4 linked regions of the Homo sapiens genome follow. The protein of the gene in region 1 interacts with the protein of each later gene in a biochemical or structural test. Each region holds a gene or a part of one and is shown in the gene's direction. Other genes may lie near its edges.

Region 1 (3,500 bases):
CCTCACTCCAGAGCCTCCTAACCAGTCCTATTTGACCAGATGGTACCAAAGAGTAACAATAACAATAACAATAATAATAGTTGACATTTATGGTATTGATATGTGCTTGGCTATGTGCTAAACATGTTAAGTGATAGTCCCATTTATTTCTCACAACAATGCTATAAAGTAGGAACTATTGTTTTTATTGTCGCATCATTTGCAGATGAAAAAACTGAGCACTGCAGAGATTGTGTAGTTGGGTAAAATATCTAGTAAGTGGTGGAGACAGAATTTGTCTTGACAACAGTGTATGCTGTCTTTTTCCCTCTTAACATACTCTGGTCCCCCCTGGTAATGAACTTGGCACCATTCTCTCAGCTAGCTGGGGTTCTCTTGACATTTTTATTTGACCTTACTCTTTTTTGGTAAACTAACTCCTGCTTAGCAGTAGGTATTTTCACTTAATGTATTATACCTCCTGGGAAAACAAACGTGTACTGGAAAAGAAATATCTGACGCACAATAAAATTTTAAAGAGTTTATTTAGTAAGAAGCCAGTCATACATTGGGAAACACCAGACCAAAAGAGGTTTAGTGTTCCAATGACAAAACGCCAGAGGCAAGTATTTATTGGGAAAGTACAGAAACAAACAATTTATTTGGTTGGTTTGCAATTACATAATTGCCTTTTTTCAGGTACTGTATTGGAAAGTCCTTACTGACATAACAATATGTGAGTTGGATGCTTATGATTGGCTGGGGTTATGTTTTAGTTCTAACATAAGCATTTATCAGATATGAACCTGAGGTAAGTTTCACTTCTGTTTGCAATTTAAGGTGCATGCATATTGGTGCACACCTGTAGTCCCAGCTACTTGGGAGGCTAAGGAGATCAGTTGACCTGGGAGGTTGAGGCTGCAGTGAGCCACGATCCAGCCAGGATGACACAGTGAGACCCTGCCCCAAAAAGAAAAAGAAAAAAAAAGTAAGAAAAAGAGTACCCTTGTTTCTCACCTCCCAGAACCACTTTGTATTGGGAACTTTATATCAGTAATATAGATCCAGATTTTAGCAAATCCATGAAACCTATCTGACCTAAGAGCTTCCTGGAGTCAAGTCAGAGCTCTCCTGAGGATGAATAACTATAGAGCTCTCTTGAGAGTTCCATAGTTAACCAAGCTTTATACATTTATTCCATAAATATATTTTGTATACAGACACTGTACTAGCTTCTTAGGTGTTTCTTTTTTTGCTATGACCAGCCTATCTAAAAAACTGCATTTGCCAGGCATGGTGGCTCATGCCTGTAATCCCAGCACTTTGGGAGGCTGAGGTGGATGGATTGCCTGAGCCTAGGAGTTCAAGACCAGCTTGGGCAACATGGCAAAACCCTCTCTCTCTCTTAAAAAACAAAACAAACAAAACAAACACAAAAAACACACACACACAGAAAAAATTAGCTCAGTATGGTGGCATGCACCTGTCATCCCAGCTACTTGGGAGGCTGAGGTGGGAGAATCACCTGAGCCTGGGAGGCCAAGGCTGCAGTGAGCTGTGATTGCATGACTACACTCCAGCCTGGGCAACAAAGCAAGACCCCATATCAAAAATAAGAAGAAAGAAGACTCTGTTGACCTTTCTAAGAATGGATTACCTGTTATAGAGCAAATGCTATCCTCTGGCCTCAACCTCCTGTGTAGTTGGGACCACAGGCATATACCACCATGTCCAGCTAATTTTTCTTTTAAATTGTAGACAGGGTCTAACTATGTTACCCAGGCTGGTCTCGAGCTCCTGGGCTCAAGTGATCCTCCCACTTTGGGCTCGAGTGATCCATCCAGCACTCCCAAAGTGCTGGGGTTATAGGCATGAGCCACTGCATCCAGCCAATAGACTATTCTATATATCAATATATGCAATAGGACATTTATTTAATATTTTCAGAGATGATTATGATGAGTTCCTGAATTTGAACCAGCCTCCAGTGAATGCATCCTGGAATACCTTTTGCTTTCTTTTAGCCTAGAGTTTATCTGTTTTCACATGACATGAAAATAGCATGACCTGGGTAATTCATTTGACAAGTATTTACCTAGGACTCGTAAGTGCTTTTTATTGTTACAAGTAGAAGAAGACCATGCCATTATGCTTGTAGGTCTTTAAAGGACCTACAACCTAGTTGGAAATAATTATAGAATGGGATTAGATAGTATATATCATGATATCAACTTACTCATATTAAAGACCCTACTTTGTCTCTTTTTCTATTTTTTAATAATGCCTTAGATAAAAAGATGTAAGGGATCCTTGTTAAATACCTGGGAGACACAACGCTGGGAGTGAGAAATGGAAGACTAATATATTGACGATAGATAGTGATCCAGTAAACAAGAGCATTGTGCTGAAACTAACAAGTTGAAATTAACAAGAATAAATAGAAAGCCTTGCATTTAGTTTCAAAAATCCAGTAGCATAATTACAGGATGGGAGAAAGCTATAATGTCCACATTCAAAAAAAGTCTTGTTGACTTTTTATTTAATCTACACCGTCAGTTAGTATCTTAAAATACTACCGAGAACCAGGCACCATGTAGGCACTGGGGGACCTCACCACCTGATGCACCTGCAAACACAGATCTATTGGTCTCTAACGTGCAGCTGGAAGAGAAAATAAGCCTGCTTCATAGATCTCATCAGAAGGAGACACAACTCTCTAAGAAGGTCATATTTGATAAAATAGCCTGTAGAAGAGGGAGACTAGAGTGGTGAGTGACAGAAAAACCAGGCTGTACAGAAATATTGAGTGACCACAGGATGTTTAGTCTAAAGAAGAAAAGATTATAGGACTTTGATGGCTGTTTTCCAGCCTTTGGAGAGCTGTTGTGTGACTACAGGGGAGCCTTAAGACGTCTTTTGGGTTATTTCAGTTGGACCAATGCGGTGAAAGTTAGAAAGGACAGATTCATGTTGATGTCTTAAAAGTTTTCCTGCCAACCTTGGAAAAGGCTGCCTCTAAAATTGCAAGATTTCTAAAAAAGCTATATTGTCAGTGACTAGAATGGATGATCTCTAAGAATTCCTCTGATGCCAGTTTTTTTCATTTTTATTTTCCAAATTAAGTGGGAGGTAAGAGAACTTTTCATATACTTTCCTGAAGCCTTCAGACCTGCAAGAATTTTGCCAGCCCACAATTAATGAGTATGCTTCTCCATCTTCCCCACTTTCACTGGCTAAAACAACCTTGATTTAGTGAACAGAATGTCATAGTAAATATACTCCAACCATTAAATTACACCACTGACCCACTTAGGGTGAAACAGTTATTAAATTCTAAACTGTGTCTCCATTCATTCACCAGTTGGACATGTAAATACCAGTGCTGACCAGAACATACAAGAAGGGGAAAATCTTGCCTCAAAGTGAGGTAAATGGTGAGAGGAAGCTGACAGACCAGAGCCTAAGAGGTGGAGCACATAGAAGCTTCCACATACTGTCTGCAGCTCAAGAGGGAGTAATGG
Region 2 (3,500 bases), on another chromosome or scaffold:
AAGAGCCCTGCATTTCCATTTTGTGCTTGCCCCACAAATTATGTAGCTTGTCCTGCCAGGGAGTTCAGGCTGAGTTTGGGACGGCTTCATCCCCAACACTGGCCTTGCAGCCTCCACTGTCCCCATCCTAATCCACAGCCTCCCACTAAATGCCAGCCTGCTGGTGTCATCCTCCTGCATGGAGGCCCCCTCCCCACAGTGCCTGGAGTTACAGCATTGCCCTGCCAAGCCAGCAGCTACTACCCGCCATCACTATCAACACCTTGAAAAGTTGGTGGTCCAGAGAAAATCCTCACACAGCACCGCAGACCTTTCCTGAAGTCTCCCTGCCTCCTTCCCTGGCCTCCTGCTGCCTCCTTCCCAGGCCATCACCTACCTGTTTGCTGAAGAGCCCCAGTTTCTAGCCCAACAGATCTCTCCCTGCCATTTCTCCCAGATGCCTTTCATCTCTCACAGAGCCCTGGCCATACCTTTCCCTGGCATCATCTGCCAAAAAACTCAAGAAACCCTGGAGGCCTAGCTCAAGGCCACCTCCCTCAGGAAGCCATACCCGCTCTCCCCACTGGAGTAATCATATACTGTTGTTAGTCACCATTTACTGGGCACCTATGATGTGCCAAGTGCTGTGCGTCATCATCTCTGGCCCTCCCAGAAATGGAAAAGGAGGTCTCCCATGCCATTTCCCAGGAAATTGGGACTCAGATAAGTTAAACTCAGAGAACTGGGGCTTGGACCCAGGAATAAGTGGCTTCCAGCTGGAACCACTGCTCCCAGCCTGGCGGGGCTCCCATCCCTGCCCTGGATGGCATCAGGCGCAGCCTGTTGGCTTCAGAGTGCCATATGTCTGTTCTGCCCTCACCAGCTCATCTCCATCACCTCCCTGGAAGGAAAGAGTCACCATTGCCTATCCATGCCAGTTCCCTAGCCTAGTGAATCCTGTGTTATTAGGAGGCAGCCGAGGGCCCAGGACTGAAGAGCTGACCCTACAGAGCCATTTAATCTCTCATATCGTGTAAGCGTTTACTGAGCACCTACTGTAGGCCTAATTCCATATTAGGAAGTTGAAGAGAGTCCAGATCGTTGTTAGGTAGGTATCCTGATTTGTGGGAAGTCATATTAAAGGACTAAGACAAAAGTTCAGGAAAGAAGTAATTGACAGACAGTGGTGATTAGATGGGTCTGGCCTTAGGTTGGCCACCGAATCGCCGAGTGTGCTAGGATGAGACACTCCTCACTGAGCCTCAGGACACTGAAAAGGGCTGTTGCTACTGATTGTACCAATAATCAGCAGCTACCTCTTCCTGAGGAGCGTCTTTTGGGAGAGGCCTTCTTGCACCGTCTCATTTATCACATGCATCACTTTGCTGAGAAGCCTAGTCCCGTGGAGTCTTGGCTGTGCGCGCAAGGCCGAGTGAGTGAGTGACTTCTTCTCCCTTGAGTGAATGAATAATAATAATGTGGCCACCAACTTTGCAGAGGGCTGTGTGCCAGGCCCTATTCTAAGCATTTTGCTTGTGTTAACTCCTTCAATAGCCCTGACAACCCAGTGATGAGCCCCAATCTACAGATGAGAAAACTGAGGCACAGAGGGGTGGTTAAGTGAATGACCGAAGACAGGGGTGGGAGGACAGATGCTGAGACAGTGAGAGGGTCAGTGAAACATGGGGGTTCTCTGCCCTCCTGCTCTGCCGCCCAGGAGGGCTCTGAGGGGAATCTCAATGTTTGGTAATTGGCACTGATAAGTGAAGGGTTTACTCATTAGCTAGCTACCCCTCCCCTATTTGCAGGCCCTGGGCCTGTGGGGGAAGGCTGTGTGCTGGTGGGTCAGTGTGAATGGCCCAAGGCCTGCCTGTCCCCTGCCCACTTGGCTCTGAGAACCCATTCTATTTGCGGCCCCCACCCCAGCCCATGGCTGCTCCGGGCTGGCAGCAGCCCGGGGAACAGAAGGTTTGCTTGTCTGCGCCTGCCGCACCCCCCTCCTCAGTCTCAGCCTGGGACCCCTCTCAGGGGCTCCTTTGGCTGCCAAGGGCCTGGCACTCCCTGTTGCCATGGCACCGGCCGGAGATGAGGCTCTGGGGGGTGGGGATGGGGAGGGCAGCAGCAGGATGGTGGAGGCCTGGAACTCTGCAGCTACAGAGGCCCTGGCCCTCTGCAAACAGTGGAAGGGGGTGCTGGGGCCCCCACAGGGGCAGGCCTGGACCCTGTGCACAGCAGGCCTGTGGCAGAGCCGGCCACACACCTGGGCTGATTGCCTGGATGCTGTATCCCGCAGGAGCACTGCCCCTGCCAGACCCTGGCTTTCCTAAGCAAAAACTCTCTCCTCAGCCTTGTGTGCTCACCCTCAGCCTCTGCAGCGAAATTGTGGAGTTCTATCCCTAGTCCTGGGTTCTATCCCTAGCTCGACTTTAAAATTATTGGTGACCCGGGGCAGGCCTCCCGCATACACTGCCCCTCAGTCAGAGCAGAGGCGGGACCCAGATCCCTGAGGATCTTCTCATCCCTGAGATCCTGGATTCCGTATGGACGCCATTAGAGGGAGAACGTTTCTCTGTGGACAGATGGACAGAACTGTTTCTGGTCAGGAGACAGACAGTCTGGCATGACGGGCAAGAATTCAGGTTTTGGCAGTTGTGGTGATGCGCACCTGTAGTCCCAGCTACTCAGGAGGCTGAGGCGGGAGGATCACTTGAGCCCAGGAGTTTGAGGCTATAGTGAGCTGTGAGCTATGATCATGCCACCACACCACTGTACTCCAGCGTGGGCAACAGAGCGAGACCCTGTCTCTAAAAAAAAGAAAGAATATAGGCTTTGGAGTCAGGCCGGCCTGAGTTTGCATTCCCGTTCCTTTGCATCTTACTTATTGTGTGACCTTGGGAAAGTTACCAAAAGTCTCTGAGACTCATCATTCTCCTCTGTAAAATGGGAATAATGAGTGTACCCCCCTCACAGGGTGGTCGTGAGGATGAAACAAAATCTCCAGATCATCTCATTTAGCAGAGTGCCTGGCTCTAAATTAGTAGGGACTTTTGTTTGTTTCCAGATTGGGGGGGATCAGAACAATAACTAGAAAGATGTCCTGTATTTGGGGAGAGGGTGGTTGGTGGATAGAAGCAAGACCAATAAGCAGAGAATACAGTGAGATAAACTGTACTCAGTGTAATTAACAATTCTCAATAGTCTGCCCTCTGAAGATTCTAAGCTGGCTAAGAATGAAATGGGCCACAGGTGAGGTGGTGAGAGCCCTGTCATGGGAGGTGTGCAATTGCAGAGAAGGTGGGGGAGATGTGAATAGAGGGAATGTACTAAGACTGTAGGGCTCTGTGAAAAATGGAGTGACTGTTTCCCACTCAAACTGTCAGCTTCAGCTTTACCCAGCTCAAAAGACAGCGTGAAAGAGTGAAAGGAGAAGTTGGGACAAAGAAGGCGAAAAGATAAGGCTGACGACTTTATTTTTTAATTTATTTTTTTGAGACGGAGTTTCACTCTTGTTGCCCAGGCTG
Region 3 (2,547 bases), on another chromosome or scaffold:
CCATGGAGTCTCCACCACCAGCCCCGCCACCATGCCCCGGCCCTGCACCTGACACCATTGATCTGACCCTGCAGCCACCTCCACCAGTCAGTGAGCCTGCCCCACCAAAGAAAGATGGTGCCATCTCAGACAATACTAAGGCTGCCCTTAAAGCTGCCCTGCTCAAGTCTTTGAGGAGCCGGCTCAGAGGTGCCTTGTGGGCAGGTCGGGTGGGCAGAGGGGAGACTTGGACTTGGACAAGGCTTCAGGCTTTTACCTTCTCCCCTGCCCAACTTCCCCGCAGATGGCCCCAGCGCACCCCTGGAGGCTCCTGAGCCTCGGAAGCCGGTGACAGCCCAGGAGCGCCAGCGGGAGCGGGAGGAGAAGCGGCGGAGGCGGCAAGAACGAGCCAAGGAGCGGGAGAAACGGCGGCAGGAGCGGGAGCGAAAGGAACGGGGGGCTGGGGCCTCTGGGGGCCCCTCCACTGACCCCTTGGCTGGACTAGTGCTCAGTGACAATGACAGAAGCCTGTTGGAACGCTGGACTCGAATGGCCCGGCCCGCAGCCCCAGCCCTCACCTCTGTGCCGGCCCCTGCCCCAGCGCCAACGCCAACCCCAACCCCAGTCCAACCTACCAGTCCTCCTCCTGGCCCTGTAGCCCAGCCCACTGGCCCGCAACCACAATCTGCGGGCTCTACCTCTGGCCCTGTACCCCAGCCTGCCTGCCCACCCCCTGGCCCTGCACCCCACCCCACTGGCCCTCCTGGGCCCATCCCTGTCCCCGCGCCACCCCAGATTGCCACCTCCACCAGCCTCCTGGCTGCCCAGTCACTTGTGCCACCCCCTGGGCTGCCTGGCTCCAGCACCCCAGGAGTTTTGCCTTACTTCCCACCTGGCCTGCCGCCCCCAGACGCCGGGGGAGCCCCTCAGTCTTCCATGTCAGAGTCACCTGATGTCAACCTTGTGACCCAGCAGCTATCTAAGTCACAGGTGAGAGGGAGGCCCAGGCCATGGGGACACCTGGGTCTGGGCCAAAGGAAAATGGGTTCAGGAAGCGGTCAGTGTTCCACAAAAACTGAGCAGCAGATGGGGCTTTATCTCTGAACGTGTCCTCTTGCTCACAGAAGGAGCATAATGGCAATGAAGAGGTTGTTAGGAGACAAGTTAAATATGGCCTGCAAAGTGCCTAGCCCAGAGATGGGGCCAGCCAGCACTCACTGACTGCCGAGACTGGTGTTAGCACTCCCAGATATCCAGGCGGAGTAGTCAGCAGCATTGGGACAGGGTGGCCTACAGACCTCAGTCTGTCTGCATTGTAACCTGTCATTCCCTGCAGGTGGAGGACCCCCTGCCCCCTGTGTTCTCAGGCACACCAAAGGGCAGTGGGGCTGGCTACGGTGTTGGCTTTGACCTGGAGGAATTCTTAAACCAGTCTTTCGACATGGGCGTGGCTGATGGGCCACAGGATGGGTAAGGTGGCTGGACTGAGCTCCTAGACTGGGACTGTGGGGAGAGGTTCCTGGTGCAGGAGACATGCACCTGTGGGATGGGTGAGGGTCCAGCCTAGGCTAATAGCACCCCTCCCTTTCCTTCCCCTGCAGCCAGGCAGATTCAGCCTCTCTCTCAGCCTCCCTGCTTGCTGACTGGCTCGAAGGCCATGGCATGAACCCTGCCGATATTGAGTCCCTGCAGCGTGAGATCCAGATGGACTCCCCAATGCTGCTGGCTGACCTGCCTGACCTCCAGGACCCCTGAGGCCCCCAGCCTGTGCCTTGCTGCCACAGTAGACCTAGTTCCAGGATCCATGGGAGCATTCTCAAAGGCTTTAGCCCTGGACCCAGCAGGTGAGGCTCGGCTTGGATTATTCTGCAGGTTCATCTCAGACCCACCTTTCAGCCTTAAGCAGCCACCTGAGCCACCACCGAGCCATGGCAGGATCGGGAGACCCCAACTCCCCCTGAACAATCCTTTTCAGTATTATATTTTTATTATTATTATGTTATTATTACACTGTCTTTTTGCCATCAAAATGAGGCCTGTGAAATACAAGGTTCCCTTCTGCACCTGACTCCAGGTGTAATTTTTGGAGTTCGGGGTAGGACACCATCAGCAGGGGAGCAAGGAGGAGCCAGGTGCCTACATTTGGGGGATAAACAAATATGTTTGTGTGTATGAAGCCAGTTCATTCAGGTTCTGAAGGTTTATTGAGACCTTCAGTCCCTACCCACTCCCAGCCCTGCAGAGATTGTCCTCTGCTCCCTCATGTGGCTAAACCTCTCAACACCCAGAGGGTATGGGGAAGACCTCATATGCATGCCTACCTTGGCTGTGGCTGTTTCAGGGTGGTGTGCGGTAGCTGTGTTCTTGGCATAGAGCTTCAGGGGCTGGGATGGGCCATCAGGGGAAGCTGAGTATGATAGTGAGGTGGGCTGGGGTTCCACGGTACTCACCACAGGGGAGTAAGTTGGTGGGAGGGATGCTGAAGATGGGACATGGTTTGAGAGCAGCCCAGAGGAGTGCTGGGCTGTGGCCTAGAATACACCATGGGCCCTGTTCACACTGCACTGC
Region 4 (3,500 bases), on another chromosome or scaffold:
TCTTCTGAAGATAAGAACTTTCTTAGGGGTTCTAGATTGTTATGTAACTTTTCACTAATTTCTAGGTATCTGGTGACCCATCTCATGGGGGCAGATCTGAACAACATTGTGAAATGTCAGAAGCTTACAGATGACCATGTTCAGTTCCTTATCTACCAAATTCTCCGAGGTCTAAAGGTACAGATAATACAAGTAATAATTTTTTAAAATGAATTCTCCCTTTCTCCCCTCCTTTTAGGGCTTAAACAAACAAGTAAACAACTTTTCTAATGGAAAATTCAAACACATAAAATCACAGGTAAAGGTCATATAGTACAGTAAACTGCCATGTTCACTCAGTGACAACAGTTACCGACATATGGCCAATCATGTTTCTTTTGTATTTCCCAAGCCCTGGATTATTTTAAAGCAAGTCTAGACATTATATAATACCATCCATAGATACTTCAGTTTGCATATCTGAAAGATAAGGACTCTTCATTCTTACATCTAAACAATAATTTATTGATGTAATCTAATATCTGGTCAGCGTAATGTTGAGATTTTCAAAAAATCCTCAAGAAAGACTAATTTATTTGTTGGAGGGGCAGATAAACAGTGTTTTAAAATTAAACCCATCTTTGATATTTAGCTGCTTTGAGTCCTTATTGAGCTCCAGAGTGCCAACCAGAAAATAGATTAAAAGCTCAACTGAGTGGAGTCAATGGCTGTGGAAATTATAGTAATGGTAAATGTACACAATACTGATAGTTACTTATGCTGATTTCTAATCTTACTATTAACACTAGCAGTTCTTACTGATTCATGAAAATGTGCAGCAAATATGTTATATAATATGACAATAGAAGGTTGGAGGTAACTTTGACTTTTTTCTCTTTTGCAGTATATACATTCAGCTGACATAATTCACAGGGTATGTATTGTGACTTTGATTACATTATTTTGGGGAAGTGGGGTGAGAGTGGAAGAATGGCATTTAGCCAAGATCCTAATCTAAACTTTAGCCATTGAAATGTTGATTGATTGCAACTTTACTGTAGGTTTAAGCTGATTAAAGAAAGAAGATGTGTAGTTTTTTTCTATGTAAGGCTAACTTGGACTGGATATTGACTGTAGGATGGAGATTGTCTTTTGATAGCTGGATGAAGTCTTTTATGTCTGGATCCTCATTATTACCTGTAGGGGGAGAATTGATCATGCATCATAAAGTTGATCCTGTCTTCCCTGTATTTGCTTCCTAGGACCTAAAACCTAGTAATCTAGCTGTGAATGAAGACTGTGAGCTGAAGGTAAAATGAAGAGACAGTATTCATTGTTTGCTTTACTTTGAGATTATATGTTTGACTAAGCAGGCAGACTTTCTTAGGGAGTAGCTTTGTGAGCCATGACTATCTGAAATTCGTATTATTTTTATTATCAGACTTTGAAATTTAAACCATTTCTGAGTAAGCTAAGTGACATTGAAAGTGGCATCACTTGTTTTTATTTTAACATAAAGTTAAATTATAAATTTGATATATTAGTCATAATAAAGGAGGATAATAGTCAAATATCAAGTAAGTAGGCCCAAAGAGGTGATAACTAGATTAAATACATTTCTAAGAGGAGAAATGGCAGAAACCCACTCACTCAAAATAATTCAAATAAAAAATAAGTGAATTAATTGTTTCTAAATAGCAAGCAGCTCTAGAACTTTTGTTCCATTTCATTTTTTTAACTTGAAAAAATGTCTGTACATTAGAATGCACCATTTCATTTGGCAAAATTATATATCCACTTAACTCACATTTATGATAAAGACCATTTCTTTTTTTTTCCTTTTTTTTGGGATGCAGTCTCACTCTGTTGCCCAGTCTAGAGTGCAGTGGTGTGATCTTGGCTCACTGCAACCTCTGCCTCCCGGGTTCAAGCGATTCTCCTGCCTCAGCCTCCCGAGTAGCTGGGACTACAGGTGCACGCCATCACACCCGGCTAATTTTTGTATTTTTAGTAGAGATGGGATTTCACCATGTTGGCTAGGATGGTGTCGATCTCCTGACCTCGTGATCCACCTGCCTCGGCCTCTCAAAGTGCTGGGATTGCAGGTGTGAGCCATTGCTCCCAGCCAAGAACATTTGGATTACTTTAAAAAGTTTATGGCCAGGCGTGGTGGCTCATGCCTGTAATCCCAGCACTTTGGGAGGCCAAGGCGGGTGGATTATGAGGTCAGGAGATAGAGACCATCTTGGCCAACACGGTGAAACCTCATCTCCACTAAAAATACAAAAATTTAGTTGGGCATGGTGGCGGGCACCTGGAGTCCCAGCTACTTGAGAGGCTGAGGCAGGAGAATGGCGTGAACCTGGGAGGCAGAGCTTGCAGTGCGCCGAGATAGTGCCACTGCACCCCAGCCTGGGCAACAGAGCAAGACTCCGTCTCAAAAAAAAAAAAAAAAAAAAAAAAGTTTATTGTGTCCCTTCCTAGTCAATCCCTACCCCTCCACCCCTAACTCTGGCTCCAGGCAACTATGGATCTGCTTCTAACACTATAGATTAGGTTTATCTTTTCTGGAGTTTCATGTAAATGGAATCATATAGTGTGTATTTTTGTGTGTCTGGCCTTTGCTTGGTGTAATGATTCGGTATTGTTGTGTGTGTCAGTGGTTTCTTCCTTTTTATTGGTAATAGTATTTTGTTTTATGAACATAACAGAATTTTTAAATCTATCCACCTGCTGATGGACATTTGCTTGAGTTTGAGGCTGTGTAAAGCAACTGTGAATGTTTATGTGCAAACCTTTGTATGGACGTAAGTTCTCATTGCACTTGATTAAATACCTGGGAGTGACATTTTTGTTTTGCTTTTTGTAATTTCATTTTAAGTTCTTGCTGTATATTTACCATACATTCTAAGTATGGACCAGGAAATCTCTTTATGAAAGTGCTATTTTGTTCTCCTTTTTAATAAGGCAACAGAGGTTTGTTTGTTGTTGTTGTTTTGTTTTTTTTTCCCTGCCTGTTTCTAAGTCTTAGCAGTTTGTCTGTTCCTCTTCTGCCCTTTAGATTCTGGATTTTGGACTGGCTCGGCACACAGATGATGAAATGACAGGCTACGTGGCCACTAGGTGGTACAGGGCTCCTGAGATCATGCTGAACTGGATGCATTACAACCAGACAGGTATTACTCGCCTTGGTTATTTAGGGCCTTATTTAATTCCATGTTGGATGCATTTGGGATTCTCAGAAATAGAGATGGTGGGAGTGGGAAGAAATGTCTTTTCTTCCCTCAGTGATCCTTTTAAAGCCTGCAAGTAAAAATATTTCACTTCCTCAGATGGGGAAGTGGGGTTTTATACACAGCTTTTAAACCTTGTGATTTAGCAATTGGGTTTTTATTTATTTAGATTTTGAATATATTCTCTGAGTACTTATACCTAAAGACAATTAGTCCATAATTTTAACCCCTCAATGTTACTTGGAAGAATCTACCATTCTACTAATAAGAAACTTGCCCCTTTTTAAA

What was found. The genes of interacting proteins can lie anywhere in the genome.
Region 2: of the proteins of PTPRR (region 1) and PDGFRB, one has a biochemical effect on the other in vitro, tested with the Homo sapiens proteins (one large-scale study listed by IntAct).
Region 3: the proteins of PTPRR (region 1) and MAPK7 form a complex in vitro, tested with the Homo sapiens proteins (one study listed by BioGRID).
Region 4: the proteins of PTPRR (region 1) and MAPK14 form a complex in vitro, tested with the Homo sapiens proteins (one study listed by IntAct).

What each region holds. Positions count from the first base shown.
Region 1 is NC_000012.12:70,641,239-70,644,738, reverse strand, and holds part of PTPRR (receptor-type tyrosine-protein phosphatase R isoform 1 precursor), read left to right. Parts: intron 1-3,500. UniProt on the Homo sapiens protein: Sequesters mitogen-activated protein kinases (MAPKs) such as MAPK1, MAPK3 and MAPK14 in the cytoplasm in an inactive form.
Region 2 is NC_000005.10:150,145,846-150,149,345, reverse strand, and holds part of PDGFRB (platelet-derived growth factor receptor beta isoform 1 precursor), read left to right. Parts: intron 1-3,500. UniProt on the Homo sapiens protein: Tyrosine-protein kinase that acts as a cell-surface receptor for homodimeric PDGFB and PDGFD and for heterodimers formed by PDGFA and PDGFB, and plays an essential role in the regulation of embryonic development, cell proliferation, survival, differentiation, chemotaxis and migration.
Region 3 is NC_000017.11:19,381,498-19,384,044, forward strand, and holds the end of MAPK7 (mitogen-activated protein kinase 7), read left to right. Parts: coding exon 1-189; intron 190-283; coding exon 284-969; intron 970-1,315; coding exon 1,316-1,449; coding exon of another isoform or gene 1,450-1,453; intron 1,454-1,580; coding exon 1,581-1,734; 3' UTR 1,735-2,047; downstream 2,048-2,547. UniProt on the Homo sapiens protein: Plays a role in various cellular processes such as proliferation, differentiation and cell survival. The upstream activator of MAPK7 is the MAPK kinase MAP2K5.
Region 4 is NC_000006.12:36,072,808-36,076,307, forward strand, and holds part of MAPK14 (mitogen-activated protein kinase 14), read left to right. Parts: intron 1-65; coding exon 66-177; intron 178-883; coding exon 884-913; intron 914-1,241; coding exon 1,242-1,289; intron 1,290-3,040; coding exon 3,041-3,155; intron 3,156-3,500. UniProt on the Homo sapiens protein: Serine/threonine kinase which acts as an essential component of the MAP kinase signal transduction pathway.